Linked DNA regions of Homo sapiens: all the other regions are linked to region 2. Evidence: fine-mapped expression QTL. A gene starts in region 2. Each other region holds a variant in brackets. All regions are shown on one strand. Distances are from middle to middle. Region 1 overlaps ADTRP (androgen dependent TFPI regulating protein). Region 2 holds the start of ADTRP (androgen dependent TFPI regulating protein). Region 3 holds the start of LOC124901258 (a long non-coding RNA gene).

Region 1 (11,596 bases), 65 kb after region 2:
TGTCTAGGCTTGGGCACTCAGTTGACTGGTTCCCCTACTAGTGAGCCTTTCTCCAGATCTTCAGTTCTGGAAACTTATAGATAGCCACGTATTCTGTCCAAAGCCAGAGCTAAGCCTATGTTTTCCCTCCTTCCACAGCCTGAGCCCCCTTTGATGACAGGAGAAATTCAAATGAATGCTTTAGGGAGGCAGTCGGGGGCTGTGGTTAGAAGAAAAGTTCTGGTGCCAAACTGCCTCAGTCTCTATCTTGGCCCTGCCACTTGTACCTGTGACACTGAGTGAGACACTGAAGGTCTCTGTGCCCCAGCTTTCTCTTGTCCTAGTGGAGATAATGCTAGTGGCCTCCTCCTGGGCTCACGGAGAACCTCAGATGACTTGCTGAGGATCTAGCGCCTACAGCAGGACCTGGCATACAGTTAGTCACTGCTGCTGGTCATCTTATTCTCCCTCATTCTCCCCTTTGAGTTGATGTATAAATTACCAGTTTCCCAGCTGCAAGTGATTAAAGGTAACAGCTACCCGATAGCAGACGGACAGAGATGATGCACGTCCTCAGGTACTTACAGCAAATAGGAGGTCAGGCTATTGGAGGCTAGAATCTGTTGGAATCTCTGCTTCTGAAATCCTGAGACACAACTGGAATCTCTGCTTCCAGTGGCCCAATTTGAAGTCACCAGCCAAGCACCAAGCGGTCAAGAACATCAGGCGAAGTATCAGTCAAGACCCATTCAATGTGACAGTAGCTCTCTAGCAGTAGTTCTCCACCTTGGCTTTTTACATCACAGAAACACTAGGGAAGTTTAAAAAATAATAATTCCCAGGCCTGCCTTAGACCAATTAGATCCATATCTCTAGAGATGGTGACTCGACATGGGTATTTTTTAAAGCTTCCCAGTTATTTTAACTTGCAATCGGGATCCGGAACCGCTGTTACAGAGCAACGCTTCTCAAACCTGTATAGGCCTCTGATGCTCATCAAAATGAGGATCTTGGGGAACCCGGAGATCTTGTTAAAGTGTGGATTCTGATTTAGTGGATCTGGGGTGCAGTTTGAGATTCTGCCCTTCTAACGCATACTCCAGACATACTGATGCTGCTGGTCTGAGGACAAGGCTCTATTACATCTCAGGACCCTGGACTCCTCCCAATGTGGATAATTCTGTCTACGGCATCCTTGTGCAGTGTGGTGCTCTCCTGAGTGGGCTGCTGGACTGAGAAGGGTGTTGGTGGTGATGGTCACAATAGCTGAACATCTACTCACTTTCTCCCTCCTCCTGTGCCACATCAGTGGGTGAATATGGACAAGAGAGCAAGAAGGACAGCAATAAGAAACCATACTGGGAATCACATGTTAAATTGGAAAGTGTATGATGAGGTCCTCCCAGGGCACTCAGTTGCAGGGAACTGGCTTTGAGCGTCAAGGAGGCAAGTGTTGTCATGGCCCACAGGAAGGTCCTTCAAGAATGCACTGAGGCTCAAAAAGCTCACAAGAGGTTCCTCAGGGCCACCTGGCCTGACCTGTCACCATCTCACTCCCTGCCCTGGGCTAGCCTTTCTGTGTCATGAGGCAGAGGGTTGGGCAAGCACAGAGTCAGTTACTGGGACCAGTCATCCCCCAAGAAAGATTCAATTTCTACTTTTTGGGAGGAGTTAGATGGAATGTTAACTTCAAACCATGATAGAAGCAGATGGGGGAAGCTGTCTCTGGCAAGACATTGAGAGCTTGGCTCACCATGACCATGACTGAACACCCAGGCATGCCCAGGGCAGGTTCTCTTCCACATTGACTGGGGGCAAGAGGCAATCAGGACATCCTATCAAAGGCTCCCTTCTCTGCCCCTTATGTGCTTAATTTTCTTTTTTTTCTTTGATGATTGATAGCACACAAGGATGCTGACACCAGCACACAAGCTCCTCAGGAAGAGAAAATCATCCCACAAGAGATATGGGGCACAGAAAGGGGCTAAACACCTCCAGGCCCAAATGGCAGGGCCTCTGCTATGTGGGGGTGGTTGGAGAGACAGTCAGCTTATCCAGGGCCTGTGACCCCTCTCCCTATGCCCCTTGATGGACACATGCCAGGAGTCAGGCTGTCCTTTGTCAGGGCCCCTAAGACCATAGGTCCTTCTCATCCTAAGGACAGACTGTAAGCTGAAAATTCCAGCCTGGCCAAGTGGCGCTGGGAGTGTGTCCTGGACAGAATGACATGGAAACTTTCTTTTAATATTATTTGCCATAAACCAGGTTTTTTAAAAGGCAGATTTTCTTGATGAAAGCTGCCTAGAGGCCATCTAATCCACCTCCTTGTTTTATTCATGAAGGAATTAGATGAGGTTTGTCTTATTAACTCTGCTTATTCCATAGCAAAAGAATTTTATCATGCGATGACTCCACAGGTACTTCTAAAGCATGGTCCCACTGGGGCAGCATTTAGTCAATGGCAAAAATTTATCTCCATTTTGCCTTTCTTGTCCTAACTTCATCTCCCTAAACTCAAAAAGAGCCCGCTGTGGATTACCCTCCCTGCCTCTTCCTCAGCCTCTTTCCCACAGGAGTTTCTCCAGCCAGCCCTCAGTTCCCTGTCCTCCCTGGACTTCTGCAGTGTGAACACAGGACTATCAGTGCTCAGATCTCATTTCTCTAACACCTGCTATCCCCCCAACCATCAATTTTCTTGCCCTTTTCTGAGTCAGCCCACTGAAACTAGGCAAATGTTCTTCAAATTTTCAATGCCTGGCATTCATTTTTGTGGTTGTAGATACATAGGTGTAAATCTTTGAGAATACTATGTTTTTATTTATCCTGATTTCTAACTATTGGAATAATAAGGCATATAATTATATATGGTATCTATGGTGATGTTGATTGAAACAATAATTTCTTGGCCATGCCTGCAGTTTCTGTTCAGATCTTGCAAAGATGGAGGCTAGAATCTGTTGGAATCTGCTTCCAGTGGCCCGATTGGAAGTCACCAGCCAAGCACCAACTGGTCAAGAATATCAGGTGAAATATCAGGGCTATAAAAATATTTCTAGCCCTTGCTACTATCTGACAGCAGTTAAAGGAATAAAACAAGTCGGGGTGAATCTAACTTCCTATCTGCCAACTAGGATACTTTCTACTGGGAAAAATGCTTCTCAATCAAGAAAATATTTATAATAAACATAATTTTCCAATTACAACTTAAAATCCATTTTGTGAATTTGGTTTGGGTAAGATATATGATCTATTATTAAGTCAACAGTTTCCTTATTTCCAGCTATGCGTTATAGAAACATGGTCAGAAGGCTGGGTGCGGTGGCTCACACCTGTAATCCCAGCACTTTGGGAGGCCGAGGCGGGTGGATCACTTGAGCTCAGGAGTTCAAGAGAAGCCTGGCCTACATGGTGAAACCCCATCTCTACTAAAAATACAAAAAAAAAAAAAAAAAGCTACGTGTGGTGGCGCACACCTGTAGTCCCAGCTACTCGGGAGGCTGAGAGGTGGGAGAAACACTTGAATCTGGGAGGCAGAGGTTGCAGTGAGCCAAGATCACACCACTGCCTTCCAGCCTGGGTGACAGAGGAAGACCCTGTCTCAAAAAAAAAAAAAGAAAAAGAAAAAGAAAAAAAGCATGGTCAGAGATAAATTTTGAAGACTTAAAGAAGCCTACAAACTGCTTAGCTCTGTGAGAATTCAAGACTAAGACCCGCTTGCCATTCCCAGCTGCTAGAAGCAAAAAGAAACATGATTTTTGCAACGTTCACGCCACATGAGTCCCTACAGAATAAAATGACTTTGGGAGCACCACAGAGACCCATTTGGGAACAGTGCCTTCTCTAGCATGTGGATGGGTATGTGGGCATTTCTGAGTGTTCCTCCTAGCTACTTGGTTTTGGACAGAGGACTCTAATCCAATGGAGGGAACCACCTGCTGTCCTCCCCCAGCAGAGCTTCATACCACCATGTCTGCTCCTGGGTGGCTTTTCTCCAAACCTTCGTGTTCTGTTGCATTTCTTAAATGGAGAAGGGAGTCTTCAGTCCTCAACACCTGGGGTGGAAGGACTGAGGTTATTATTACAGTTAGGCTTGAGGGCTTGGGGATTGGTAAACAACATGGATAAAAGAAAGTTTTAGGAATCCTCAGAGTGACTGCGGGGTAGAAATTTGAGAAGTTTATATTGACCAAGTTTATATTGTCCCTCTTGTATGTGAGCTGGTTATTTAATTGAAAAAGAATTCATTAAAGGCCCAGAGTATACTCTACAGAAAAAGGAGGTACTGTGCTTGTACTTATAGACCTAATGTAGAGAAGCCCTAACTAGGGAGGAGAGAATTCACATCAAAAATGGAAAATAAGGCCAAGGGTGGTGGCTCTTGCCTGTAATCCTAGCACTTTGGGAGGCTGAGATGGGAGGATCCCTTGTGGTGAGGCCAGGAGTTCAAGATCATCCTGAGCAACATAGTGAGACCCTGTATCTAATAAAAAAGCAAAAAAAAAAAAAAAAAAAAAAAAAAAAAAAAAGCTGGGCATGGTGGTGTGCACCTCTAGTGCCAACTAGTCAGGAGACTGAGGTTGGAGGACTTCAGCCCAGGAGCTCAAGGCCGCAGTGAGCTGAGATTGTGCCACCGTATTCCAGCCTGGGCAAAGACCTTGTCTCAAAAAAAAAAAAAAAAAAAAAAGGGAAAAACAGAAGAGAAAGAAGTAGACACACCAATGAAAACAACGTGAAATCCATAAAGCTTGATAAACAATAAGCCTCGGCTGAAGTGACTGGGGTAGTCTAGATTGATGAGGAGCAGACGAAGAAGACAGAGTTTTGATCTTGAAAATTTTGCATGAGATGAATACAAGGATAGCCATGAGGACTGCATGATCAAGAGGTGGCCATCCTAGGAAATCAGTGTAATTAAGGGGCCACAAACAGGACTTCAAGTCACCAGTCATGATAGCCTCTAAGAAGTGGAGTTCCAGCAGAATGGAATGAGTATAAGATATCTAGTGTTTACTGTTAAGGATAGAATTGATGAAGGTGGCAGGGTTTGAAGGGTGAATCATGGAATTAGGAGCATGGATTTGCTGCAGGAATACCAAGCCAGAACTACCAGGGCTGTAAGTTCTGGAATGGAG[GAGA/A]AGTTTTTAAAGTAGCATTGACAGTATTTGGCAACAAGCACAAAGGATAATGAGCTAATGAAATTTCACAAATTGCAGAGCTTACACAAAGATTTATGATCATTAAATATGGAGTACCAACTTGTTGGCTGAATAGAAGTCATTCTACAAATCTAATGCTATAATTTCAGTAGAATAATGCCCCTCTAATGAGCTTACTCAAACCTAATCCATATGCCAGTACTTTTCCACCAGGCTGATGAATTCATTTGCTAAGAGGTCACAGAATGACCCCAATTAGTTGAACATCCACCCTTCTATTTCCTCTCTAATTTGATGTGGTCTCTTCATCTCCATCTGCAAAGTCTCAAAGTTTGCTGATGGATTGTGTGTAGCCTGCAGACACTCACTCAGAGTCACAGCAATATGCTTCCTCTTAGCTATGCAGAGTACCTGAAGGCAAACAGCATCGTGGGTGCCTGGCTAACTGTGAACCCAGCACTGAGGGAGGACGGCAGAGTTGTTCTCTGCCCCTGTCATCGTGGCAGCTGTTTTTTCATAACTCCTTAAACTGCATCTTGTCACCTTGGGAAAAGTGTGTTCAACTTTCCACTGCCCCAAGTCAGAGTGAATCTCTACCCACAACAAAAATACCCATTAGGGAAAGCCTGAAGCCTGAGGTCTGTCTCTGTTCTTGTTTGTACAGGTGACATGAGGCAGCCACGGAAGAAGAGGAAGTAATTGCACACCATTTTCCAAGAACCAAGAAAGAAGAAAACACAAGAGATTTTTCTCATCTTTTTTTTTTTTTTCTGGTGGAGGGAGGTGGTGGAGGAACATAGCAAAGTAGGAGGGACAGAGAGTGATACTTAAATTTAATAAGAGGTTCGTGAAGGTAGCTTAACTTGAGAACTCTTGGTTTTTTGAAAGGTTGACTGCACATGCCAAAAACAACTCCTGCTATCTCAGAATTAATTATCTTTGACCTTCGTGGAGGATGGTCTCTGGTTAAAATCTGGCCAAAGAAACTCACATAAACTTGGTGTTAGAGAACATCTAGAGAGAGAGAGAGGAACTTAGAGTCATTTAAACTCTTCAGTTTACAGAGAAGGATGCTGAGGACCTAGATGAGAAGTTACCTGCAAAAGGCAAAAGGGTTACTTAGTGTCAGAACCAAGGCAATGACTTCTCTCTCCCAGATCTCCTAGCTACTGGTCCTGGGCCATTTTTTTTTTTTTAAATAATCCCAACTTTCTTTAAAAGACAAGCATTTCAGTAAGCTAGTTATTTTCATGGGTTGCTCATCCATTTTTTTCAGTGATCTAAAAATGTAGGGAGATGGCTACTACTGAAGTTGTCTGTCTACTTGGGATAATAGCAAATTAATTGAAGACAATGGGAAAGTAAGTTATAAAAAATACTGGGAAATCTGTTTCTCTTCTGAGCAAGCATTCAGGGCAGGTATAAACATCAAACATAGTGACATTGTCAAAACCTCTTCCATTTGAACATTGATTAATTCATCAAATAAATGGTATAGTAATAAATTTTGCTTGCAGAAGAATCTGGATGGGAAGTGATAGAATTATAAGGGCTGTTGAGATTGCTTTGCTACAAAGCACTTTTCTGAATTAGTGTGTGGTTTAACAAAGCTGATTTCCAGATGCTTAACAAGGATTCATGATCCCTGCTGTGATTTTCCTAGTGTTATTTTCCTGGCCTTTATTTGTGGGCACATTTTTTAAAGAACACAAATGGCAAATGGCTATTGGTGGGTAGACATATTTGAGTCTACTAGTATGTCACTAGGCTCATATGGGTTGGGGTGTGGACACTGAAGGAAATTGGACTTGGACTTCCCAACCTAACATTATGTAGGAGAAATCTGGTAAAAATGAGCAAGAGTGGTCTTGAAGGGTTACAGAAGAGGACAGAATATCTCAGGTGGGAAGGCAGCCTAAGGGAAGACCAGGGCAGGCACCAAGAAACCTGCTTAATTCCCACTTCTTTTTCTACTGTTCTGTTAATATGGGCCTCAAGTCTTTTCCAGTTGGAGCTGGGAATACCACCTCTTTCCCCACATCTACTGCTGCCTCTTCACTGCTCCAAGCACCTGGTCTCAGCAGGAGCTCAGAAACAGTTGCCACAGTGGAAATTCCCCAAACGTGAAGCCCTCGGGGGATCACCCAAATGTTCCACACCCCAGAGGTGACTCGGGCTGCGTAACTCTCAGTCACAGTAAGCTCTTGGTGGGGATGAGCCTGCAAATTTCTATTTGTGGCTTTACTGGCCCTAGGACCAAATTAAACCTTGATTGCAGCATGCCTGGCCATTGTGCAATATCTCTTCCAACACTAGAAATGTCTCGGAACAATTTCCCATTGAGCACATGCCTAAGCACACAAGGGCATGCTCGGTGCTGCAGTAGCTTAAGAAAAGATACACAACAAAACAATAACACACTGATTAAACATTTGCTAAAAGGTATATGGTATTTGCAGATTGCATAGCACTATGTTAGGCCCTTAATAGAAAATGACAACTATAGCAACCACATGATGATACCAGCAATATTTGTGTAGTGTCAAGTAATTCATCACCACTCCCACTTATTCTAGCCCACGGAAACTTCGTAAGTAGGAGATGAGTTACGTTCTCATTTTACAAATGAGCAAACTGAGTTTCTGAGGGTGGTGTGCTGGGAAAGGTTTAACAACCAGCTCTCTGGGGAAAAGATGTCAGGCTCTGATTGATAATGTGTGCTCATTTCCATGGTGTAAACACTCTCCCCATGGCCTTTTTCAAGCTGGCAGCACGTTGCTGAATGTACAGTTGGGAAGAGATGTGGACAACCACTTAGTCCTCGAGAGCCTGTTGTGCAAACTGGCTCCAGCACACCTCTGCGTTCAGAGCAGGGAAATGACAAGTCCAAGGTCACATGGATAGTTGACTCCTGAGCCCACTTTCCTTCCTCTTTCTTACAGAGCAAAGCAGTACCGGGTCATCCAAAAACTTTATTTAAAAAACAAAACAGAAATGTGTCCACATCTTGCAGAGCTGGACAAAAGAAGGTGGTCAAGAGATCCCAAATTGGTGGAAACTGTCCCCGTTACAGGAGGAGGAAGGACGCTGCCACCACTACCCCAGGGACTGGCCTATACTCATGCTTCTGTTCCAGTGTTGCTGTCTCACATTTGAAACCAATTTTGAATTTGGGTAGAAGATTCGTCTTGTTGCCTAAACAATGCCTTAACCCCATTCTCTCCCCAGAAGGGTCCTACATTTCTTAAGCTATTTTCAGCTCCTCCACACCTACTCACTTGCAATACTTGTCATAACAGGAAGCCAGTTTCATATACTGTAATCCCCAAACACATTGCACCCACACGTGGGGAGCGTGAGGGGCTGAGCGAGGAGCGAGGAGGCCAGGCCTTCCAAAAACTGGAGGGGCTGAGCACTGAGCCGCTCCCAAGGTGGGGCGTCTCCACTCCCAAGCCCAGGATTCAGAAGCCAGAATCCACATCCAGACATTCTTGTTTTCCTTTCTCATGCAGTTGCTGGTGACTTTTTTTTTTTTAATAAAGCATTTGAGTAGGCAGCAAAGCCAGTCAGAACTGTTTATTTATAGCTGTGGATATTCAATGCTGTATAAATTAGAAATCGTTGCTGAATGAGGCCCGCGCCCACTCATACACGCAGGGCCGCTATCTGTGAGTCCTTTCACAGGGTTTGACTGTACACGGTCTAAAATGGGAGAAAATGACATGCTCCGAGTCAAATGACGGAGTCACAGCTAAACGGCAAAGCAGAAAACCAGCAATTATTTTTCCCCAGCACAATATGGGGAGTACGACAGGTGCAATTATCCAATATTATTTAACAGTACCGGTTTGTGATGTAGGGAGAAAATAAAGGTTTCCGTGTCTTGGAGAGGAAAAAAAGAGAAAGAACATGCCTTGCAGCTCCTGTTTCTATGGATTAAGCTGGGTTATGTACATGGAAACTGGCCAGGATTCCAGAAGGGGAAGGGAGAACCGCCTGGCTCCCTGGCCCTTCCTCCCAGGAGGCTCTTGAGGAGCAGCACCACAGGGGGCTTCTGAGCAAAGGTGCCCCCAGCCTTGGGATACTGTGGCCTGAACACCCTCTTCCCCAGGCAATGGCTCCAGGTAAGACTGCGGGGAAGACTGGGTTTGCTGAGCCCCTGTCCGCTTAGAAACAAACTTCCCTCCTGCTTTTGACTCTCTTTCCCTCCATTGAACTACAATGAGGTCAAAGAGCGTGTGATGAGAAGGTGATCCACAAGGAATAACTTTCAGCCCCTTAACCAGGTCCCCTTTCCCACTTCCAGCACGTTATTATTCCTCCTCCCAAGCCTTTGCTTAAACTGGTCACACTCCCTAGAAAGACCCCTCTTCTTGTAGCTACTGTGGAATAAATAAGTCAACCTTCATGGCTTCCGACCTCACTGGAGTGCCACTTCCCAACTCTCTGAAAAAGCTTTTCCTTGCCCCTCCGGGGCATTTGGCCGGCTGCCTTCTCTCAGTTCTGCTAGTTAACAGCTAATCAGCTTCACACACTATGCCATTGCTCTCTCCTTCACGTATCCTCCTGGCTTCTGTTTCTGGAATGGTATGGAATGCCATGCCGACTAAAGAAAACAGTCAAGCTTTTAAAGAATTAAAGTTAGTTGTATTCAGAAGTCTTACTGAGGACTACAGACCAAGGCCTACAGCCTGGCAACAGCCTGTCAGATCCTATGAGACTGCTCCAGCCCAGGATTTCAGCCCACTGCTTACAGACAGGAAGTGGAGGTTCAGTACCTGCACAATCACATCAAATTTGCTCAGAATTTCCGTCGCAGCAGAATCCCATCAAGGCTTGGGTGTAAGAGCGCATCCGGTTGTAGATTACAGAGGCATAAACACTAACCCTGTTAAAGGTTTTGTCTTCAAAGCATCTTTCCAAACATCTTCACAGTCCAGGGCTTTTGTGAAATTCTGCTGGCAAGCAGAAGTGAGCAAAAGGTGCTTCTCATATTTGCTCCTTTGTCTCACAGCTGGAAAGAAGAGAGGCTTCAGAACCAGACCAGATCTGAGTTCAAATTCTGACTCCCATGGCTGGCTATCTGTATGGAACCTAGAGAAAATCAGTTACTTTTTAGAAAAATGTATTATTCACTTTTTATTTGTTTAAAAATATATAACAACTTCAGCATGTGAATAAGAGGACACAGTCTATCCAGAAGGAGCTTAAGTATGCTATGTAGGCCGCCAGAGGAACGCAAAAGAAGTAAGCATCCCCTGTTCCTTAAAGACCTTAGGCATGCCAGATTTTATTCCAACTTGCTACTGTCCTAAGAGAGGCACTAGTCAGCCCCTTGGAGAGAGACTCACCTTGGATAAAAATAGTTTACTCCTCTGAGCCTTGGTTCCTTGTCTGCAAAGTTAGATAATGATACCACCACAATTAAATAATAAGATTATTTAAAGTGGTGGATGCAAGTGCCTGGCTCCCAAGATCTCCGTCTGATATAGTTTGGGTGTTGTTTCCTCGAAATCTCGTGTTGAATCATGATACCCAGTGTTGGAGGTGGGGCCTGGTGGGAGGTGTTTGGATCATGGGAGTGGATTTCTCATGAATGATTTAATGCCATCTTCTTGGGGCTGGCCTCGCCATAGTGAGTTCTGGCGAGATCTGGTTGTCTAAAAGTGTGTGGCCCCTCCTCCTCCCATCTCTCTTGCTCCTGTTCTCACTATATAACGTGCCTGCTCCCCCTTCACCTTCTGCCGTGATTGTAAGCTTCCTGAGGCCTCCCCAGAAGCCCAGGAGATGCCAGCACCATTCTTCCTGTAAAGCCTGCAGAACTGTGAGCCAATCAAACCTCTTTTCTTTATAAATTACCCAGCTTCAGGTATTTCTTTATAGCAATGCAAGAATGGCCTAATTCACCATCCCACCTGCTTGATTGCAAACTCCCGGGATGAGGGGCCGTGTCTACCTCTTTATATCTCCAACAAAGCCTAACTCTGCACCATTAGAAAGTACTCAAAAATACAGGCGGACTTGAGGATTCCTTATAGCTTCTTAACCTTACAGGCATCATCACCAGTTATCTTCCACCCTAGGCTTCCCTGGAAGCTGATAGTCTCAACATTAGAGTTATTGTTTCATTTCAGATACTCTCTCCATCTTACATACCACAATTCTATTTACAGTGACGAGCAAATTGCAGTTTCATGTGGACTGGTAGTGAATGAACATTGATAGAATAGGACGCATAGCAGATACATTTGATGAAAAGGAGAAGGAGATGAGGAGTGGCCTGGAGGATAAATGGCTTGCGTGCAGGGAAGCTCTAGAGTGGATGACTAGATGGCCCTAATGACTCAAAGGAGAGCCTATGAGCTACTAGGGTCCCAGTCCGGAAGACTGATCCTTAAACAGGAGGTGGGGGGATGTTGAAGACAAACCTTGTTTACATCATAATTCATTTCACCTTAGGT
Region 2 (11,426 bases):
ACTGAAATTTTATATCCTTTGACCAACTTTCCCCAACCCCCACTCCCACCTCCGCCCCAGGCCCGTGGTGACCTCCATTCTACTCTCTGCTTTTTTAGACTGCACATATAATGAGGTCAAGGAGTATTTGTCTTTCTGTGCCTGGCCTATTTCACTTAACGTAATACCCTCCAGGTTCACCTGTGTTGTCACAAATAGAAGTTTCTTCTGTCTGAAGACTAAGCGTTATTCCACTGTGTATCCGTACCATACTTTCTTCATTCATTTATCCATCGATGAACACTTAGGGTGAGTCCCTGTCATGGCTATTGTAAATAAGAATGTTGCAATGACTGTGGGAGTGCACGTGTCTCTTTGACATACTGATTCATTTTCCTTTGGATATATACCCAGTCGTGGGATTGCTGGATGATATTATAGTTCTATTTTTAATTTACTGAGGAAATTTCATACCGTTTTCCATAATATCTGTGCTAATTTATTTCCCACCATCAGTATATCAGAGTTTTCTTTTCTCCACATCTTTGCCAACACGTGTTTTCTTTTTTCTTTCTTTCTTTCTTTCTTTTTTTTTTTTTGGATAACATCCATTCTGACAGGTGTAAGGCGATATCTCATTGTGGTTTTAGTTTGCATTTCCCTGAGGTTTAGTGATGTTGAACATTTTTTATATATCTGTTGGCCATTTGTATGTCATCTTTTGATGTCTATTCGGGTCTTTTTCCCATTTTTTAAATTGGGTTATTTGTTTTCTTAGTCAGCAGATGTTTATTAGGTACTTACTGTGTGTCCAGCACTATGCTAAGCTCTGGGAATTCAAACACATCATATGTGAACCCTAGGAGATAATGACGTACAAAAAAGACTAATTCCTAATCATTATGCAACATGCAGGGATGCATAGCAGGTTAAAGAAGACAGGAGGGAGCTGTTTAAGATGGCCAGGTTGTGGTGGCCATCCAGGAAGGGTTCCTGGAAAAGGAAGCTGCTGAGCTGCATTTTAAATGAGGGTTATGACGTAACCAGTCAAAGATATGTTGAGAGGAGGCATCAGGGAGAGGAGACAGTAGGAGTAAAGGTGCCGGTATGTGACATAGCCAGGTGTGGGTGAAAAGCTCTGTCAATGCAGTGTTGTTGGAGTGACATCCAATGTGGGATGCCACACGAGGATGGAGAGAGCCAGTGGGAAGTGGGCAGGTTATTAAAAGCTATGAAACTTGGATGTAATGCTGTGGGTGATGCTGATGTAGTAAAACGACATGAGCTGGTGGGGGATGTGGCATTTCAGAGAGAATCACTCACTGACCTTGTGAAAAACAGCGTTGGGGCATCAAACTAGATTCAGGAAAACCAGCTAGGTTGCTGGTTGCTATGGTGGTGGCAAGAGATGGAGGCCACTTGAACGAGGGCAGTTGTAGAAGGGATGGAAAGAAAGGGACTGATTTGACCCTGATGTAAGAAATGAACTTGGCAGGATTTGGTGGTTAACTGGATTTGAAGAGTAAAAAAGCGGGAGGACACAGGAAGCTCCCAGGTCGATGGTGAGGCCATGGTCACAGGACAGAGACTAGAGAAGAAAAGCCTGGTTTGGCGGAAGTCAGTGAGCTCGTTTTAGACGTATGGAGTTTGAGGCGTGTCTGTCTCCTTCAGGAGATTCCAACAGGTAGTCAAAGATGTGTTTGAAGCTTGGTGGGGATAGGGAGAGGGCCTGGACCAGAGGTATATAATTTGTGGTCACAAACTGGAAGGCAGTGGTAGAAATTATGATCATGGATAAAATCACTAGGGTGAGTATGTGTTGGGAGACGGACGGTAAGCTGGACCAGCTCTCTGGGGAATGCCAACACAGAAGGAGCTGGTGGAGGAAGAGGAGCTCATTAAACAGACTGAGAAGGATAGTAAGAGCATGTTGGGAGAATAAGCCTTGCTCATACGTGGCTTCCTTAGGGCTAGCTTCCCTGACGCCCTACCCACACCAGGTCTGATACTGCCATCCCCTCTAATAAGTCTGCTGTGTTTGTCCTTCACAGAAGTTGCCATAGTTATAAATTAACACTTGTTTTTGTTGTTGCTTAATGTTCATCTTTCCTGCTAAAATATAAGCTCCATGAGGGCAGGGTTTGCATCGCTCTTCTTCCTCGGGGAATCCCCAGGACCTAGCAGATAGCTGTTGCTTAATAAGTATTTGTGAAATTAAAGAATCATGTTGCGGACTCCCAGGGGGGTAGAGAGTTTCAAAGAAAGTCACTCTTAGTAACCAAGTGGCCTGTGTAGTATCCAAATCAAAGTATGAAATATGCTTATTTTTAAATGTTTAAAATTTCCTGTGTAAAATAATAAAAGTTTTGAACAATTCCTTCCCACTTCTCCTGGATATGACGTGAAGCCCTCAGATACTTGGAGAAAGGAAAAGGCAGACAAACAGCACGCTTAGTATGTATTAGTTTATAACGTGCAACTAAGAGGTGACATTCATTGCTCTCCAAAGCTCCACCTGGTCTCATGGTGGGGAACAGATGTTCAGGCTACTTCATGAAAATGGATCTGGTTATTCAACCAGGAACACAAATTATGATGTGAATATGGTTGCAATGTAGATTTTTCATTGGCAACAATTTTGTGAAAAGTTTATAAGAAAATGCAGATGTTGAATTAAGAAATAGTTTTATTTCTTAAAATATTAAAATATTTCTTAAGAAATAAAACTATTTCTTAATTCATAATCCTTAACTCATAATGTAATCCTTATATACATATATTACATGTAATTATTAAATCCTTATATACATATACATGTTATTTATTAAAATATCATTTTATTAATTATTAATATGTATTAAAATGATATTACATGTTATTAAATCCTTATATATTAATGTCATTATTTATTAAAATGCTAACAATTCATTGGATCCCAATGTAAAACACTAAAACTCTTACAAATAAATTTAAATAATTTTATCAATATTTATGAGAGGCCCCATCTGTGGGCAATGAGGCTAACGTAGAGAAAAAAACCATCTAGGTGGTGAAAGGCCAGTGTCCAGGTTTGGACACACACATCTCAGAGATTTGGGTCTTTGTCTTCCCCTCCTTTCCTACCTTTGCGTCAATCCTTACCCATCTGCAGACTTAGACTTGAGATTTTTTTTTGTATAAAGGAATAAAACCTCTAAATCAACAATGGTGTCTAAAATGAAAACACCCTTGGAGACATTCATTCATTCATATGTGCACCAAGTTTCAAAACATATTGATCCTTTTCTGAGATAATTTTCTGATGAGAGGAGAGAAGAATAAAAGGGACTCGGCCGGGCTCGGTGGCTCACGCCTGTAATCCCAGCACTTTGGGAGGCCGAGATGGGCGGATCACGAAGTCAGGAGATCGAGACCATCCTGGCTAACACGGTGAAACCCCGTCTCTACTAAAAATACAAAAAAAATTAGCCGGGCGTGGTGGCAGGCGCCTGTAGTCCCAGCTACTCGGGAGGCTGAGGCAGGAGAATGGCGTGAACCCGGGAGGCGGAGCTTGCAGTGAGCCGAGATCGCGCCACTGCACTCCAGCCTGGGCGACAGAGCGAGACTCCATCTCAAAAAAAAAAAAAGGGGCACTCAGTAGGGAGAGGAGAAATATCAAAGTGGGAGTCTGAGAGTGTGCAGAGCAACATTGTTCCTTTGTAGGCAGGTACACTGGTTGTATTAGGGTTCTCTAGAGGGACAGAACTAATAGGATGTATGTATATAAGAAGGGGAATTTATTAAGAAGTGACACACAATCACAACAACAGGCCGTCTACAAGTTGAGGAGCAAGAAAGCCAGTGGTGGATCAGTCCGAGTCTCAAAACCTCAAAATTAGAGAAGCCAACAGTGCAGCCTTCAGTCTGTGGCCAAAGGCCCGAAAGTCCCTGGCAAACCATTGGTATACATCTAGGAGTCCAAAAGCTGAAGAACTTGCAGTCCGATGTTCGAGGGCAGGAAGCATCCTGAGAGCATGGGAGAAAGATGAAGTCCGGAAGACTCAGCAAGTCTAGTCCTTCCACGTTCCTCTGCCTGCTTTATCCTAGCCACGCTGGCAGCTGATTAGATGGTGCCTACCCAGACTGAGGGTGGGTTTGCTTCTCCCAATCCACTGACTCAAATGTTAATCTCCTTTGGCAACACCCTCACAGACACACCCAGCAGCAATACTTTGCATCCTTCGAACCAATCAAGTTGACACTCAATATTAACCATCACACTGAGTTCAGACGGCAGCTCTGCCTCTTACAAAGTGTTGAACACATCCTTTTAGCAGATCGGGCTTCAATTTCCTCATCTGAAAATGTACTTAATTCGTAATAGTACTTACCTCATAGTGTTATTTAGAGTGCTAATCAGCTAATATGTGTAAAGCAACTGGAACAATGTTTAGCAAACAGTAAGTACTATAAAAGTATTAGCTTCTGTTATTATTTGCAATTTAGCCCAGGCTGTGGAGTTTTGTACAGAGTTTTATGTACCCATTTCCCAGATCACCCCTTCCTTTGAGAATGGTTTGCTATGGTCTATGTTTGTGTTCCCTGCAAATTCCTATGTTGAAATCTTAACTCCCAGGGTGATGGCATTAGGAGAGGGGAGCTTTCCGAGGTGATTAGGTCATGAGGGCAGCATCTCCATGAATGGGATTAGTGACCTTATAAAACAGGCCTCAGGGAGCTTGTTTGCCCCTTCTACCACATGAGGACTCAGCCAGAAGGCACTATTTATGAACCAGGAAACCGACCCACATTAAACACCAGGCACTCTGTCAGCATCTTGATGTTGGACTTCCAGCCTCCAGAACTGAGAAATAAATTTCTGTTGTTTCCAAGCTTCCCAGTTTACAGTATGTTGTTATAGCAGCCCCAACAGATGAAAAAAAAAAAAAAAAAAAAAAACATGGTTACAATGCAGAACTCCATGGCGGGCTCAGGTTTGCTCTCCTCCCATCTCCCAATCCTGATATTGGGAGTCTGTTGACTCTTAGGAGGTGGGTTTGTTTATGGTTTGTCCTCCTTGTCCAGCCTACAGTTCTTTCTGCTAGTACTTTTAAGCCCTGGTTAAGTCATTGAAAAGCACCAATTACAGACTTACATAACTGTGTCAGGAGCATTTCTCTGAGGGATTTGCTCACCCCTCGGAGTCAGTTGCCCAGGGAAACAAGCTGGCGATGTCACAAGGCATCCACTTCTAGTTCTTCCTCAGTTCCCTTCTGTGGAACCTGAGTCAGAGCCTAGTCCGGCATGCTGCCTAGCCCAGCCACGTCTCATCCTATTCATGGCAGAGCGGGGACTCTCACCCTCTCCCAGCAATGTCTAAAGTCAGGTATTTTGGGGTCATGGCCATAGTAAGGATGGTCTCCTGTGCTGCTTCTTCCCTCCCAGGGCACAGAAATGCCTATGCAAATGGAGTGTCTAGGACAGCCCTGGGTTACTCTTGGTTCTCTAGGGTATAGTTACAAAAGTGAAAAAAAAAAGAAAAGAAACCATTGGAGCTGCTCCCTGGAGGATCAAAGGTTGTTGCAGACTTTCTAGAATCTCAGAGACCTCAGGAGCAAAATTACAACACACTTTTCCTTTCTACTGTTCATGCCCTAAGCACACCCATGATCTGGTTTATCAACCTGCTCCTCCTTTTCTCAAGAGATAAGGTTGCAACTTCCTTGTTATATGCAAATGAAAAGAAAAGAGACTACAGCCATGGAAGTATTTCGCTAGATTTTCCTAGTATTTCATGCTTACTTCATTTAACCATGCCCCTGCCCCAGTGCCCTAGTGAAACAGTACAATGTACAGCTCTTGCATTGCTACCTGCCCTTCTCAAAGCCCACATGTTGTATTTTATGCAAATCTACAGATTATCTATCATTATCTAAATGCAGGCATCTGAAAACCAGCAGTAATCCTGCCTCTGAAGTTTATCAGGAAAGGAGCTTAAAAGAGAACCAAATTCAGCCTGTGTTGGAACTCTCAGTCCCAGAGGGGTGTGGTTTGTAGCTCTCCGGCCTGCTGTTGGACTTAGGCTGTGACCCACAGAAGGACGCCAGAAAGTACTCAAGACATTCACGGTGCCCCGGTCAGCACTCGCCATGACGAAGACTTCTACATGCATATACCACTTCCTTGTTCTGAGCTGGTATACTTTCCTCAATTATTACATCTCACAGGAAGGAAAAGACGAGGTGAAACCCAAAATCTTGGCAAATGGTGCAAGGTGGAAATATATGACGCTGCTTAATCTGGTAAGTCCATATGTCCGTACCAGGAACCGATCCATTTCTCTAGAATATCAGTGCTGCCACACATATCATCTTTGGATTTTATTAAATACACAATTTTGTTATTTGTCTTCCTTCTTCACCGTTTTGTGAGTTTTGGGTTTTTTGTTTACTTAACAATTTGCTCTGATAAACCCAATTTGGAAATTATCTATAGTTAACATTTCTATGCTGGCTCATTGTTAAATGCTCTCTTGAAAAAAAAAATCTCATCTTGGAGCTCTTTTCAGATGAGCTCAAAGAGGGGACCATGCTAATGGTTTCACCATGGGATTAACTACAAATGCAGGAGGCATTTTGAACTTTGCTTGGGGAAGTCTGTGAAGAGAAGGCAGAGTGGCGTATGGTGTGTAGGAAGTGTAATTTCCAATGAAGGAATAATGCCATTTTACAGCACACACAGACTAACAGATTTATCTAAGAAAAGCAAACACATTTTGCCATGTTCAGCTCCCACCTCAATTTTTTATAGGTTCAGGCTCCATCTTAAAGGACAAATCACCCAACCGAATGGCAAATACACATTTTCAACTATTTAAAAACCAATCTTATGACTTACTCCTTTCTTGTCTTCCTAACCTGGCTGACTGCATTCTGATGAAGTGTGAATGAATGGGAGAAAAGCAGATTATGAAAAATACTTTGAGGAATAGCTTAAAAAAATACTTTTAAAGTTAAAAGCTAATAATGGGGAATCATTTGGGGATGTGAATTAATATTTGAGGTTTTTGACTAAAATCTTGGGTGCCACATAAACATCTGTTTTCAGAATTGTAATCCTCATTTGACAAGCGGAGAATGTATGTGGTCAGAAACTGTGACACTCTGAAATGCTAAGGACGTGGAAATGGAGAGAGTTAAAATCAAAGAGGCCCAAAGTGGCTGCTTCCTCCTCACTGGTTGGTTAGTGGCCTCTTGATTTGGGCCTGAAAAATTGGAACCCTGAACACAGCTCTAGTGTCTTTGAAAACTTCAAGGTGACTACTTGTTTCAATCATGGAATTTTATGAGAAAAACAAACAGAAACAAAACAAAAAATGTTTTTTGTATAACTAGCAGTGCCACAGTAAACAACAACAACAAAAAACCACACACACACACGCGCATACACACACACCCCTAAGGTTTGTGTCTCTATTGGCTTTCTATGAAAAACAGTCCACTAAAAGGGAAGTGTGTCTGTAGTTAGGACTGACTTTCTAATAAAATCCAATTCCAGTATGAATGTCCTACCTCACACTATGTGTGGCTAAGAATAGATTTATCACCACACTCATTAACTAGCTCCCTTACCTCTTTGTATACACACACACACACACACACAACTGATCCTGACTTTTTAATTCTAGCTCACCTACATTTCCAAGAGCCCTTATTTTCCAAGAGTGAGAAAAGTCTCTTATCTTGTCAATGATACTATCATTTCCTAGTGTTAATCCCAATTTTGCTTCCCTGATTGATCAGCTACCAAATCCTATTAGTTTTTCCTTTTACTAAGTTCATCCTTTCTTCTTCAACCTTACTACTGTCTCTCTCATTCCAGGCTTATATTAAGCCTACCTGGATGACCATATCATCTCTTTACTGTCCATTCATGGTCCAATCCAGCCACTTAGATTCCAAATTAATCTTCTCAAAGCACTGGTTTTGGTTTGTTTTTTAATACCATGACCTGGATCTAAAAGTGTGGCCTGCCGCTCAGGAAACCACAGTGGCTCCCTCCTGCCTCATGGACCCAATGTCAAACTCCCGATTCAAGAGCTCACCTGCCCAACCAGCCTTTCGGGTTCCCTCTCCCTGGGAGGCTGGTCTCTTCTGCAGTAAGGACTGCGTCTCACTAGTATTGGTCCTTGGGCTTCCTGCTGTCACTTCTCTGCCCGGTGTTCTCTCTATCCTTAGAAGAAAGGCCTACTTACCTCTCTCCACCACATTGCTTCTTTCATAGAACATTGGGAATCACATATACTCCTCCCAAATCCTTGCTGACCAACTCCAGTCCAAATTTCCTTTTCCTTTCTCTGATTTTCACAGCATCTCTCAGTCTCTGCTGATTTATATGTAGTATTGTTTTCTAATTCCCTCTCTCCCTGCCATGTGAGTCTTAACATTCCAATCAAACTTTGGCTCCAAAACAGAAGTTTTTTTTAATCTTAGGTCCTTGCCAACCCTAACTGTCTATATTTCTACCTTGAATTCAGCACAGTGGCTGGCACAGGATACCCAGATATTAAAAAGCTGCGACTTGGTACGTTGACGTGACCTCAGCCTTTCTGCATCCTCAAGCAGTCCCTCTCTTCTGGTATCTTCTGGCCCTCGTAAATAAGCTGAGAGGGGCTTGCCTGTGGTGATTTTCTTTCTGAGCTCCATTAGGAGTCATCTTGAAAGTGTGACCTAATGAAATGCTTCCCAACTGGTGAAGATGGGTTGAGTGTATTTCAGAGGATCGATTTAATGTAGATTTCGAATATGTTGCTTAAGGTGAAATATTGGACCTGCAAATGTCTAGCTCTTGAGATTCATGGGCTGATTAATGGTTGTGTCTCCTAATGATTAATTAGTGTTCATTCATGACTAATTAATTGGTGGTTGTGTTTATTAAGTCATAAAGGTCTCACAACTTACGCTCACATTCTTATATTTATTTTACCTCACCTTGGGGAAGTTAGTATCCAGTCCTGATTACCAGAAAATTTACACCCCTCCTCGTAAACAGCTTGAATTTCTAATTGGCTGAGTATCATTTTTGTCCCCTTTGTAAGAGCAAAGCCCCCTTTTGTGCCAGTTGGCACTGTGAGCATTGCCCCAGTTCCCCTTGAAGCTATCCCAGGGGACTGGAAGGGGAGACAGACAGGAGACAGGAGACAGACACGAGTTGCACTGAGCTACTCCCCTGGGGTTGGTGGTAGTGGCTAAGGTGCCATTGAGAATTGGTCAGGGTGACCCATTTCTGACTAAGGAGAGTGAAGGTAGGAGAGGACAGATGGGAGTCTCTGCCTAATAAGAGAGTAAACTGACCTCAGTGAAGGGGCCACTGATTCCCTGCTGGGAGGGAGAGGTGGTATTTCACAATGGTTACAATTGCGATCTCTGGGATGGTACCTCAGTCCCACTGCTTACTGCCCCCGAGACCCTGGGCTAGGCACTTCTTTGTGTCTTTCATTTCCACGTCTGTCAAATAGAAATAAAAATAGTACCTAACCATAGGGTAGCCATGGGGGAGAAATGATCTGACAGGTGGGAAGCGCTCAGAATGGCGTCAGCAGGGTGTTAGGCAGTGGACAGTGGGGAGAGAAGATGGGGAGGTGATGGTGAACTTCTCTGGGTAGAGAAGGTGATGCAGGAGGGTGACTTAGTAGAACATCAGTCTCCTCACTGAGCACCTAGGTTGTTGCGGGGTGGAGGCCAGCAGGAGTCATCCACCCCCTTCCCCTTCATGGCTACTATTTCTCCCTCCCCGAGCTGCATGCCCCATCTTCCCAGCTGGAGAAGGACCACTGTCGAGCCACTGCTCTCCCTGCTGTAGCTGCCCGCAGGCACCAGGCCGTCCTGGTGGTAGAGTCTGCAGGCTCCAGCAGACAGCCATGCAGAATGGGGAACCCCAGAGGCTAGGCGTGAGACCAAGGCAGTGCCATGGGTGTCCTCAAGCAGCTTAGGTTGGCTCAGATCATCCAGTGCCTGAGTCCTCCACAAATGCTATGTCCCTTGCTCTCTGTCCACCCCATTTCCATCCAGGGACTGTCCCTAATCCCAGAGAATATGAGCTAGGGGGTTTAGGGCAAGGCTCAGCAGCCACAGCTTGGCTCGCAGAATTCATTCAGTTTATTAGGGTTTCCTCTTTTTAAAGATAAGCTTCCTTCTGAAACATTGTTAGAGGTGGGGCCACATAACTGGGATCTCCAGGGGAGATTCTGAGTGGGCCCCTCCCTCCCCACGCCCCTGACACCCCCTTCAACAACAGAAGCATGACCTTTCCCTCCCTTTTCATAAGTTGCCCAAGCCCCAGGCAGCTCCGTCGTCATCACCCTCAACTTCTCATGATGACAACAGTGGCAATACCACATAAGTCCTTGGGGTTGCTGGCCTGGGGCTGGGGGAACAGAGGAGCTGGGAGGCCTCTATGGGTCTAAACTTCAAGGCAGCCTGTGAACAGTGAGAAGATGGGGTTGAATTTATAGTATGGCACCCACTTCAACACTTGGGGGACCAACCTTAAGTAATAATCTATGGCACTATTTATTTATTTATTTATTTATTTATTTTTGAGATGGAATCTCTCTCTGTTCCCCCAGGCTGGAGTGCAGTGGCACAATCTTGGCTCACTGCAACCTCTGCCTCCTGGGTTCAGGTAATTCTCCTGCCTCAGCCTCCTCAGTAGCTGGGACTACAGCATGCACCACCATGCCTGGCTAATTTTTTTTGTATTTTTAGTAGAGATGGGGTTGCACCATGTTGGCCAGGTTGGTCTCAAACTCCTGACCTTGTGATCCGCCTGCCTTGGCCTCCCAAAGTGCTGGGATTACAGGCGTGAGCCACCGCACCCAACCCCTATGGCACTCTTCAGCAACGTGGAGTCAGAAATACACTTAACTATTTCTGCCTCACAAAGATGCACTTCAATAGCTGAAAGGGTAAGGACTGAGAGAACTATGTGATAGTCACCACCAGCACCCAAAATAAAGCAGCTATAAATTATTGAGCAAGTAACTATGACAGCATTTTGGTAGGTTCTTTGGACGCAGTATAGAGATGAGTGATTGAAGACCTGGCTTCTGAAACCAGAACACTGGCTGTGCTCACTTGCTGTGTGATTTTGAGTGACTTGCCTAACTTCTCTGTGCTTCAGTTTTCTCATGTGCAGTGGATACTCTGATAAGGCACCCAGATCCTCATACCTCCCCAGCGCTGAGGTACTCAGTCCCCAGCTCTCAGGAGTGTTGGCTGCTGATGGTGCAAAGCTGAGATCCCCTCCCAGAATTGCCCTCAGCAGAAGGGAGCTGCCTCGACCAAGGTTTAGGTCCCTCCCTGGCGTTGCTGCCTGCCATAACTGGCATCCAATATGGGGTGCAAATGCTGCACTCCCGGACAGCTCTGAACGAGCAGCTCAGCTCAGAGCTCCTCAAGGGATCAGCT
Region 3 (9,244 bases), 49 kb after region 2:
TTCACCCAGTGAGTGGGAAACTTTTCTTCCATTCTATAACCTTCTCATCTAGCACCATGCTTTTGTTCCTTCTGAAAGAAAGAGGCTTGCTGAACACAAGACCTGCAGATTGGAAGCTAATCAGTGTTCCTTCTCTAGACTCACACAAGCTATTCATGTGTGACAATCTGGACAACCCTCCGATCCCTATATGCGGGGAAGTTTAGTTCAGTTCAGTGCTCTGTCAGGGATGGAAGCGCAGAGAGAGAGAGAGAGAGTGCATTCCAAAGAACATGGGCTCTAGCAGTGCCTGTTTTATGGACTCGACCAGCCTCTGTCTTAGAGCAAATAAACTTGGTGCCCAGACCTCATCTGCTGTTTTCTCCCTAGCCCTTCCTTCCCTTTTGTGGTGTCTACCCCTCCCACCTTTCTGTGCCCCTCTTTCCCTGAGTACCCAAATCTTTCTTCTCCCATCTTAAAGAAAGCACTTGCTCAATAAATCTACCCCCAGACTCCAGTGCTCTATATTGTTCTTCAGCCTCTGAAGCCTTTACATTTTAACAAAGGGAATTTCAGAGAACGAGGCTTAAGCTTGGGTCCTACTGATAGTTGATGTCTGGAGCACTCTGTTGAAAAGGATTCTGAGGCATTACCAAGAAAAAGTTGTGTGATTATTTGGCAATGACTTTCAATAGCATGACAATGGACAGTGGTAAGATATATGCTATGTGTTTGCCATATCTGGCTTAATACAAAGGAATATATCCCTAAAGACAGAGTATCTGGGACCTGGATTGGGGTAAGAGTATAGACACATAAAGATTTTGTTGTTGTTGTTCTTGCATGTGTTGAAGAGAAGCAAAGTGGAATCTAGCTGATTATACACATGAATTTGTATGCTGTATTTTTTTTGGTGGTCTTTAACTTACTCTTTTATTGCCAAGTGTAAATCTGGTAGTTCATATATATGTTATTACCTTTTACTTACTAATGTCTTCTACCTAAGGACTTGTAAGTTGATTTTCAGTTCACATATCTGACCCTTGTTTTTCTTTTCCTTTTTGGGGATGAAGAAGATGAAAAGCACCTAAGGCCACTGCTGTTATTGGGGAAAATTGTAGTGGCTATAAAAATGAGTAGTAGAGGCCAGGAGGTTGGTTTGTCAGTACCTGGGCGGGTGTCCCCATGATGCAGGTAATTAGGATGTTGGAGAAAGAAATGCCACAGGATGGGAGCCAGGTACAAGTGCATCGTTATCCATTCAGTGGTTCACCAGCGCCAGGCACTGTGCTAAAATATGGAGGATACAGTGAAGTTCAGGAAACCTGCTACCTTTAGAGGCTGTCCGGGAAAGAGGAGCATAACAGACAGTGGGAGACAGGGTGATAGGACTGTAATAGGCATAAGCCCAGGATGCTATGGGCACACAGAGAGATGTGCAGGACTGGCTTCTTAAAGGGAAGCACTGTCTAAGCTGAGGCCCAAGGAATGAATAAGAATAGGTCAAAAGAGACATGGAAAAGACCTTCAGGCAGAAAAAACAGCATCTGCAAAGGGCTGGAGGAGCTGAGGGTATGGCTGAATTGGAGGACAGGGTAAAGCCAGGTCGTAAATCCACATTAGTGCGTTTGGACTTTTAAACCAAGTGCTTTTCTGTAGAAAAGTGTTATAATCAGAGGAATGAAATGATGTGGTTTATGTAAGAAAGCTGATTAGAAAGATGATTCTGGCTGAAGTGTGGACATTAGACTGAAGAGGAACAAGACAGGTAGACCAGTTGGTGGCATTGCTGGTAACTCAGGGGAGTTGATGTTAGCCAACTGATGATAACATCAGTCAATCCACAAATAAAATCAGAGAGTGTGAACAATGGGAGGTGACTTAGAGATGACTTAGCATTGGAAAACTAAATCTCCAGTAGGGTAGATGACATGCCCATGGTCATATGGCAGAGGTGGGGTAGAGATGCAAAGCTGGTACTTGAGCCAACTAAAACTGAGGTCTCCTCTCTCCAAATCCAGTTGTCTTTCCACTGTGTTTACATGGCCAGGTATTTGTTCAATTCCCAGTGTGTGCAAAACCATTCAGCTAAATGCTGGATGGATGGGCATGCACAAAGCTTGACCTAGCTCTGCACTTTGAAATCTTTCACGTGTTGTTCCCAGCTCTATGTGCTTGGATTAGACATTAAAGTACTGGTAATGAAGGGAGTGGAGGGAAGGGATGGAGACCTGTCACCAGCAGGAACGTGACTGGGTGAGCCCCAGTGCCCAGTGGGGAGCTGAGGTGGTTTGGGATTTCGTCCTTCATGAAAAATGCTAAGTTGGTATTTGGTCCACTAAGCCCCATTTTTGCTAGAACAAATCAAATATAGACACTTAAAGGAGGGTGTTTGATGTGATCCTGTTGATGGAAGCATCTCTATTTCTGCTCACGCCCTGGTTAGAGGAGCTCAGACTCTTTGGTGCCTGCCAACCCCACCCTTACGCAGTTTCCAGGGCCCCTGGCTCCTCACAGCCACAGATGGCCATGAAGTTCTACAAACTGCAGACACCCATGGAGACGTTTTAGGGAAGTGGCTATGGGCCCACTGTCAGATGTGCCAGTTTGGACAGTCAAATGGGGAAATGGCATAACACGAATGAGGTAAAGAGCATGGGCTCGGGCCAGAGGGAGCGTGAGAAACGAACATGAGTCAGGAAAACGGCACTGAAGCTGAGCTGGAGAAGCATTTCACCGCCGAAACCATGTTCAAATGACCTAAAAATAGTTCCTGAGACCGTGGGGACCGCCTTACATGTGGTGGTTGCTTTTAGTTATTTTTCAGATTGCAAAATTGAAGAGCTCTCCCCTAAGTGGGAAAATAAAGCTTTGCAAAATAGTAATGACTGCAAAGCTTTCATTTCCTTTGGAAAGCATTAGTCACCTTTAAATATGGTAGCTCACTTATTTCTCCCTTCTCTCCTACCCCAAAACACCTCACCTAGTTCTCCCTGAGGCAGTGGTGAGGAGCAAAAAAATAGAAATGTTCCTTCTGCTGGTTTTTATTCTTTCTTTTATTGAATAAATATTTTCCCTAACACATGGTTGGTCCTGCCCAGAAAAGCAATGTTATATCAGGCCAAGCTTCAGCCTGCAGGGGGTTTATCCTTAATAAGTGGAGATGACCCATGCATACAAATTATAAGTGCAGAAGATGGAAAGTGGTAAAACCTCATAAAAAAAACACAAGGAGCCACAGAAAAGGAAGAGTTTGCATCCAGCTGAGCGGTGTGGGAAGGGCACTGTGGAAGGCATGCATTGGATCTGAGCCCTGAAGGACCGGCAGGATTGGAGCTAGAAAAAATGAGAGAAGGTAAACAAAAGGAGCACAGTCCCAAGGCCAGGAGAGTGCAGAAAGCGTGAGAGCAAGGGTCAGTAATTCTCTTTGCTGGACCTGTTTGTGAAAGAGACTAATGAGAAATATCCCTGGAACTACCCACTCATGAAGGCTTGCAGATGGCAGACTAGAGGATGTTGGACATAGTATAGAAAATGGGAGCATTTGTTGTTGCTGTTGTTTGTTTGTTTGTTTGGAGTGGAAGCAAGGGTGAGCAGTATTTGTAACTTGGCCAGCAAATTATGCTTTAAAATGTCATTCTTGACAATAGTGCTTCAAATAAGTTGGAGTGACAAGAGATGGGAAACAAAATAAAATATAAACCAATATAAAAATAAAAACTAGCCAGCACATTATGTACTTTGATCACAATGTCTTAGTTTTTATGTATGGTTATTTCACAGTTCCAGTGATATCCCCAAGCACCCTTCTGCCTTGGAGGTCTTGGTCCAGTTTTCCAAGGAGTTCCAATAATCTGCTGAGTGCTCACACATGCCCCTGTCGTGCACTGCACAACCCATGCTGCACACTGTTCTGAGCATTGTTCTTACACACAGATAGCAAAACTGTAATCCCCACTGGGTCCAACATCCCCACCTGGCACAGTGTTAAGGGTTAGCACACCATGCCCACTGCTGATGCCAACAGTGTCATTTACCCATCAGCCCCCTGTGTTGGTAGAATTAACAATGTTACTCGCCACAGCAACCACCCCAGCTGGCCTGGAGTGCATCATCACACTGCTCTTGGTAGACCAGAAACCTACTGATGCTGCAGGTGTCCCTGCTAGTGTGTAAAGTATTGCATGCCCCGTACAAACACTGCACAGATATGCAGCTGTCACCCAGCCTTGGGGCAGATGTTTGTAAAGTCCCTTCCCCAAAGTAGTTGCTATGAGGCAAGAGAGAGAATTACTTTCTTTTATACTGTGCTCTCCAGGGTAAGATCCCTCAGCAAAGCTTCCTGGGTTCCCAGAAGTAACAGTTCTTTAAATTCATGCCTCATTTACAAATACATGTACACATCTTACCCTGAGAATACATTAAAAACTGCCAAGGGGTGGACTAAGCTGAGTTCCAGGACCAGCCACCTTGCCATTTCCAGAATCAGCAATTCTCTTCTTCTCTTTCTGGTTTTTATTCATTTTTCTATTGAATAAATATTTTCCCTAACACATGGTTGGTCCTGCTCAGAACCAACCATGTTGTGAACTCCCTACCAGAGCCACTGTTACCGTTTCCAAAATATGACCTTCAACTGAGATCATCCAGGTCAACCATAGCTTTATAACCTCAACTCAGCAGGGATTGGAATCTCAGCACCATTTTCCACAGAAGAAATCCTTACCCTACCTGTAAATTCATATATGAAAATTAATTAAAAAGATGCCACACAACACATCCTTGTTGTCAACATGCGGGGTCCAGCCCAGCCAGGATCCAAACTGAAGAGGGATGGAGGTGGAGGACTAGGAGAGGAGAGGGTATCTCATCTCCTGCTCTTCTCATCTTTCCTGTTCAAACCTTAGTTCTTATTCAACCAAAATGCCTGTAACAGAAATCAGAAATAATAACGGCATGAAGAGAGTAAAACTGTAGAATCAGAAATGAGAGACATGCCTGAGACACATTGTTGAAACAACAGAATAGGTTTTATGGATTGATTGACATGTACCACACAAATGAAAAGGAAAAATTAGGATAATTCTAAAAATTTTAAGTTAGTAGACAAGAAAAATGGTGATTCCATTGATAGATGAAAATGAATTGTGAAAGTAATCGTCTTGGGTATAAGTAAAACAGTCAGTTTAATATCCCATATCTAGGTCTCATTTCAAAAATACTCTGGTTTAATTGGTTCAGGATATGCCCTCAGCATTGGAATTTTTAAGGCCCTCAAGTCAATTCTAATTTTGAGACAAGATTGAGAATCACCTGCCTGGAGGAATTTCCATTCAGAAATTCAGACCCTGCAGTCTCAAGAAAGATGGGGCTGAGGAGATGCAGCTAGTTGAACCCTCGTGGAGTGACAAGATTGCTGGAAAGAGAGAGAGGAGAGAGGGAAGATAAGTAAGAAGCAAACACCAGGGAAAGGCCCTCCTCTCAGGGACAGGAGGGGGAAGGAGCAGCAAAGGTAGCAAGGAATTACCAGGTAGTAGAAGGGCAGGAAGTTAGAAAACCATGGGCCCTGAAGGCAGAGAGGCTTCAAACTGGAAGGGGGTGTCTCAGGGAGGGGTTGGGCAACAGCTCTAAATGCCGTGATGAGGTTGCCACCCCAATGACTCTCATCACTGCCGACACCTCAACATCTAGGTAAACTATTTGACTAACACTCTAGCCTTGCAGTTTCTCCTGACTCTTTCTGTTTGATTTATTCTCCTGGGCTGGAAAGACGTGACCTGAGGGTTAACACCGAAAGAAAGAATTATATGCCCAAAGCCCACAAAACTCCGTTATCTGTTTATCTGCCACCCACAGACGTCGGTATTTCTCTACTGATAAGACGCAGAAGTTATGAATTTCTTGACAGCCATTATAATGCTCTAAGATTTAGGATAAGGAGACCCTAAAAGATTAATTTTTGGCTGCCATTTGGTGCCCACCCAGTCCAACTCACAGAGGTTCACGTAGCAGATGGCTCAAGAAAGATGTGAAATTGCTCTTTGAACTGAGGGGCAACGTCATTGGCCTCTTCAAAGTATTAGTAAAGTGAGATTAACCAAAACTTGAAAGGCCACTGGGTACATTTCCAAATTTCCAGAGCCTGTGGTGGTCTTGGTGAGTCAGGCGACTGAGAGCCGTCCATAGCAGTGTCCTACAGAGCCACCCAACACAGCCATTCATTTCAAAATTCAAAGAACCTGCTGCATTTTGGGCACTTGGCAAATAAATGTGCCTGACAGAGACAGTCCCTGCCCCTGCAGAGCTTTCAAGCTAGTGAGAAAAACAATCAAATAAGTAACAAAGGTAAGTTCCAGGGTGGAGGAAGCACCTGG[C/A]GTAAGCATTTACCCGAATCAGGGTTGGGGGAGAGAGCTTCAGGAAATCTTTTCTAGAGAAATAGACTTTTAAGCTGAGATTTGAAGCGTGAGTAAGATTCAGCCAGACACAGGGCAAAGAGAAGTAGGTTCCAGGAAACAAAAAGGTCAGAGGTGTACCCAGTGAAGACAACAGCAGGTGTGAAAGCCAAGAAACTGCAGCGCTCAGTTCACTCAAGAAACAAAGGGGTTCAATATGGATGGACTGCAGATCTCCAGATGGAAGCGGGGCATGGCCAGGCCAGGTAAGCAGCTGGGATCCTGGGATTCACTGCAGGCAGGGGAGGGCTGTGGACAGAGCTCGCTTTTAGGAAGATTACCGGATTACTGATGGCTTGCAATAGGGGAAGTGGGTTGAAAGGAGCAAGAAAGCCTAGTTGGTAGACAATGACAGAAACCCAAATGGAATGAAGGAGGCTGAAGGAAGATTGTGAAATGTGTGCGCTGAAGAAACATTTAGAAGGAAGTTTAGTATAGATATGATTTCATGGGATCAAACTTGGGGGCAAGATTGAATGGAGGGCTGACATTGGCTGAAATAGAAGACATGTTGAATGCAAAGTTCCCTCCCTCCCTCCCTCCCTCCCTCCCTACCTACCTCCCTCCCTCCCTGCCTCCCTTCCTTCCTTCTTTCCGTCCTTCCTTCCTTCCTTCCTTCTTCTTTCCCCTCTCTCTTCCCACCTTCCCCTCATATTCAGGCAAGCCATAAAGAAGTGATGTCAACTAACAGTGTGACTCTGTCCTCATTCACGCCTCTCTGCTGAGTACCCTTGGTAAATTACTATCATCTTGCCTCATACTCTGTATCTCTGTTAATTTTCCTACTGTCAGGTACCACACCTATAACTTTCCTTACACTTTATCTGTGAAAGTACACAATTCATTAGCTTACCTCGGGAACTTTCTTTTACAAGCCTTATGCTGAAGGAAACAAACATGAAGTAAACAGAAATTTTCCAAGCCTCTGGGGGGATGTCCTTATTTATAGACTATCTTACATAAATGTGCATGGGAATTCAGAAGCCCTAATTTCAACTATATAAAGTAAACAAAGTGAACTAAGTGATGCAACTTTTTGGAGTACATTCAGAGCTCCTCACTGACTCCAAACTCCTAGCCCTATCTACTTGAAACTGTTTATTTTCTATGCCATATACCTTCTTTGTCCTGCCATGAGAAGTAGCCATGCAGGTAAGAATCACTGTGGGCATCCTGTAATGCATCCATGGAACGCATATCTTAAAGAACTCTAGGCTGGCCATGGTGGCTCATGCTTGTAATCCCAGCACTTTGGGAGGCTGAGGTGGGCGGATCACAAGGTCAGGAGTTTGAGACCATCCTGACCAACATGGTGAAACCCTGTCTTTACAAAAAATACAAAAATTAGCTGGGCATGGTGGCGCACGCCTGTAAACCCAGCTACTCGGGAGGGTGAGGCAGGAGAATCGCTGAACCCAGGAAGCGGAGCTTGCAGTGAGCCGAGATTGCACCACTGCACTCCAGCCTGAGCAACAGAGTGAGACTCCATCTAAAAAAAGAAAAAGAATTCTAATATTAGTAACAATGATGATAATTATTGTTTGTTCTAGTCACCTCATTCTCAATCTGGGAGGAACATCCAGACAAGTTTGGGAAAGCAGAGTGATACCAGCAGGGCCCAGGCGAGGAACTAAATGCCAACCCTACATTTATATGACCCTAAAATTGACACCTCCTTAGATACATTTAAATTGTGGTAAAAGGTACACAATATTTACAACTTTAACGATTTTAAGTGATTTACCATTTTGATCATTTTTAAGCTCTGTAGCATTTTGTACATTTACCTTGTTGTGCATCCATCACCACCATCCATCTCCAGAACTTTTACATCTTCCCAAACTGAAAGTCTACCCGTTAAACAATAACTCCCTGGCTCAGTCCATTTTGTGTTGCTATAAAAGGATATCAGAGATTGAAAAGAGGTTTATTTAGTTCATATTCTGCAGGCTGAGAAGTTCAAGGGCATGGCCCTGGCTGCCGACAAGGGCCTTACTGCTGCCTCACAATGTGGTGGAGAAGATCAAAGGGGAAATGGACACGTGTGAAAAGGGCAAAACCTGAGGGGCACCCTAGATTTATAACAACCCATTCTCATAGAAAAAATCCATTTCTAGAGCTTACTATCACAAGAACAGCATCAAACCATTCTTAGGAGATCCAACCCCATGACCCGAACACCTCCCACTAGGCTCCCCCTCCCAACACCAACACACGCAGGACCAAATTTCAACATGAGTTTTGGTACGAACAAACAAACCATATTGAAACCATAGATAGCATTCCCCGCTGCCTCCTCCCGCAACCACATGGCAAGCACCATTCTACTTTCTCCCTCTATGAATCTGACATTCTAGGTTTCTCATATAAATGGAATTATACAGTATTTGTCCTTTTACGACTGGTTTATTTCACTTACCATGTCTTCAAAGTTGATCTGTGTGGTAGCATGTGTCAGAATGTTCTTCCTTCTTAATGCCTATGTATAAGCCACATTTTATTTATCCATTCATCTATCAGTGGGCACTTGGGGAGATTCCACCTTCAGGCTATTGTGAATAATGCTGCTATAAACATGGGTGTACAAATATCTCTTCAGATCCCTGTTTTCAATTCCTTTTTTTTTTTTTTTTGAGATAGAGTCTCATTCTCTCGCCCAGGCTGGAGTGCAGTGGCGCGATCTCCAATCACTGCAAGCTCTGCCTCCCAGGTTCATGCCATTCTCCTGCCCTCAGCCTCCCAAGTAGCTGGGACTACAGGCACCTGCCACCACGCCTGGCTAATTTTTTGTATATTTAGTAGAGATGGGGTTT

What was found.
Region 1: its variant is fine-mapped to the expression of ADTRP in whole blood (TOPMed, PIP above 0.99).
Region 3: its variant is fine-mapped to the expression of ADTRP in whole blood (TOPMed, PIP above 0.99).

Annotation. Positions count from the first base shown.
Region 1 is chr6:11,708,716-11,720,311 of GRCh38, reverse strand. It overlaps ADTRP (androgen dependent TFPI regulating protein), which reads left to right. Exons shown (of 6, transcript NM_032744.4): 6 at 5,800-6,789. The coding sequence ends at 5,834. It overlaps LOC340184 (a long non-coding RNA gene), which reads right to left. Exons shown (of 3, transcript XR_001743973.2): 3 at 9,913-10,229. LOC124900221 (small nucleolar RNA SNORA67) reads right to left here and starts at 10,493; the gene lies at 10,352-10,493. RefSeq lists enhancers at 5,787-5,936, 8,623-8,672. The variant GAGA/A (reference allele first, on the strand shown) is at 5,112.
Region 2 is chr6:11,773,441-11,784,866 of GRCh38, reverse strand. ADTRP (androgen dependent TFPI regulating protein) reads left to right here and starts at 6,064. Exons shown (of 6, transcript NM_032744.4): 1 at 6,064-6,260. The coding sequence starts at 6,108.
Region 3 is chr6:11,725,720-11,734,963 of GRCh38, reverse strand. All of the region lies in intron 4 of ADTRP (androgen dependent TFPI regulating protein), which reads left to right. It overlaps LOC124901258 (a long non-coding RNA gene), which reads right to left and starts at 7,799. Exons shown (of 2, transcript XR_007059452.1): 1 at 7,550-7,799; 2 at 3,717-4,906. RefSeq lists enhancers at 2,207-2,296, 2,577-2,876, 5,261-5,430 and a cis regulatory region at 5,345. The variant C/A (reference allele first, on the strand shown) is at 6,354.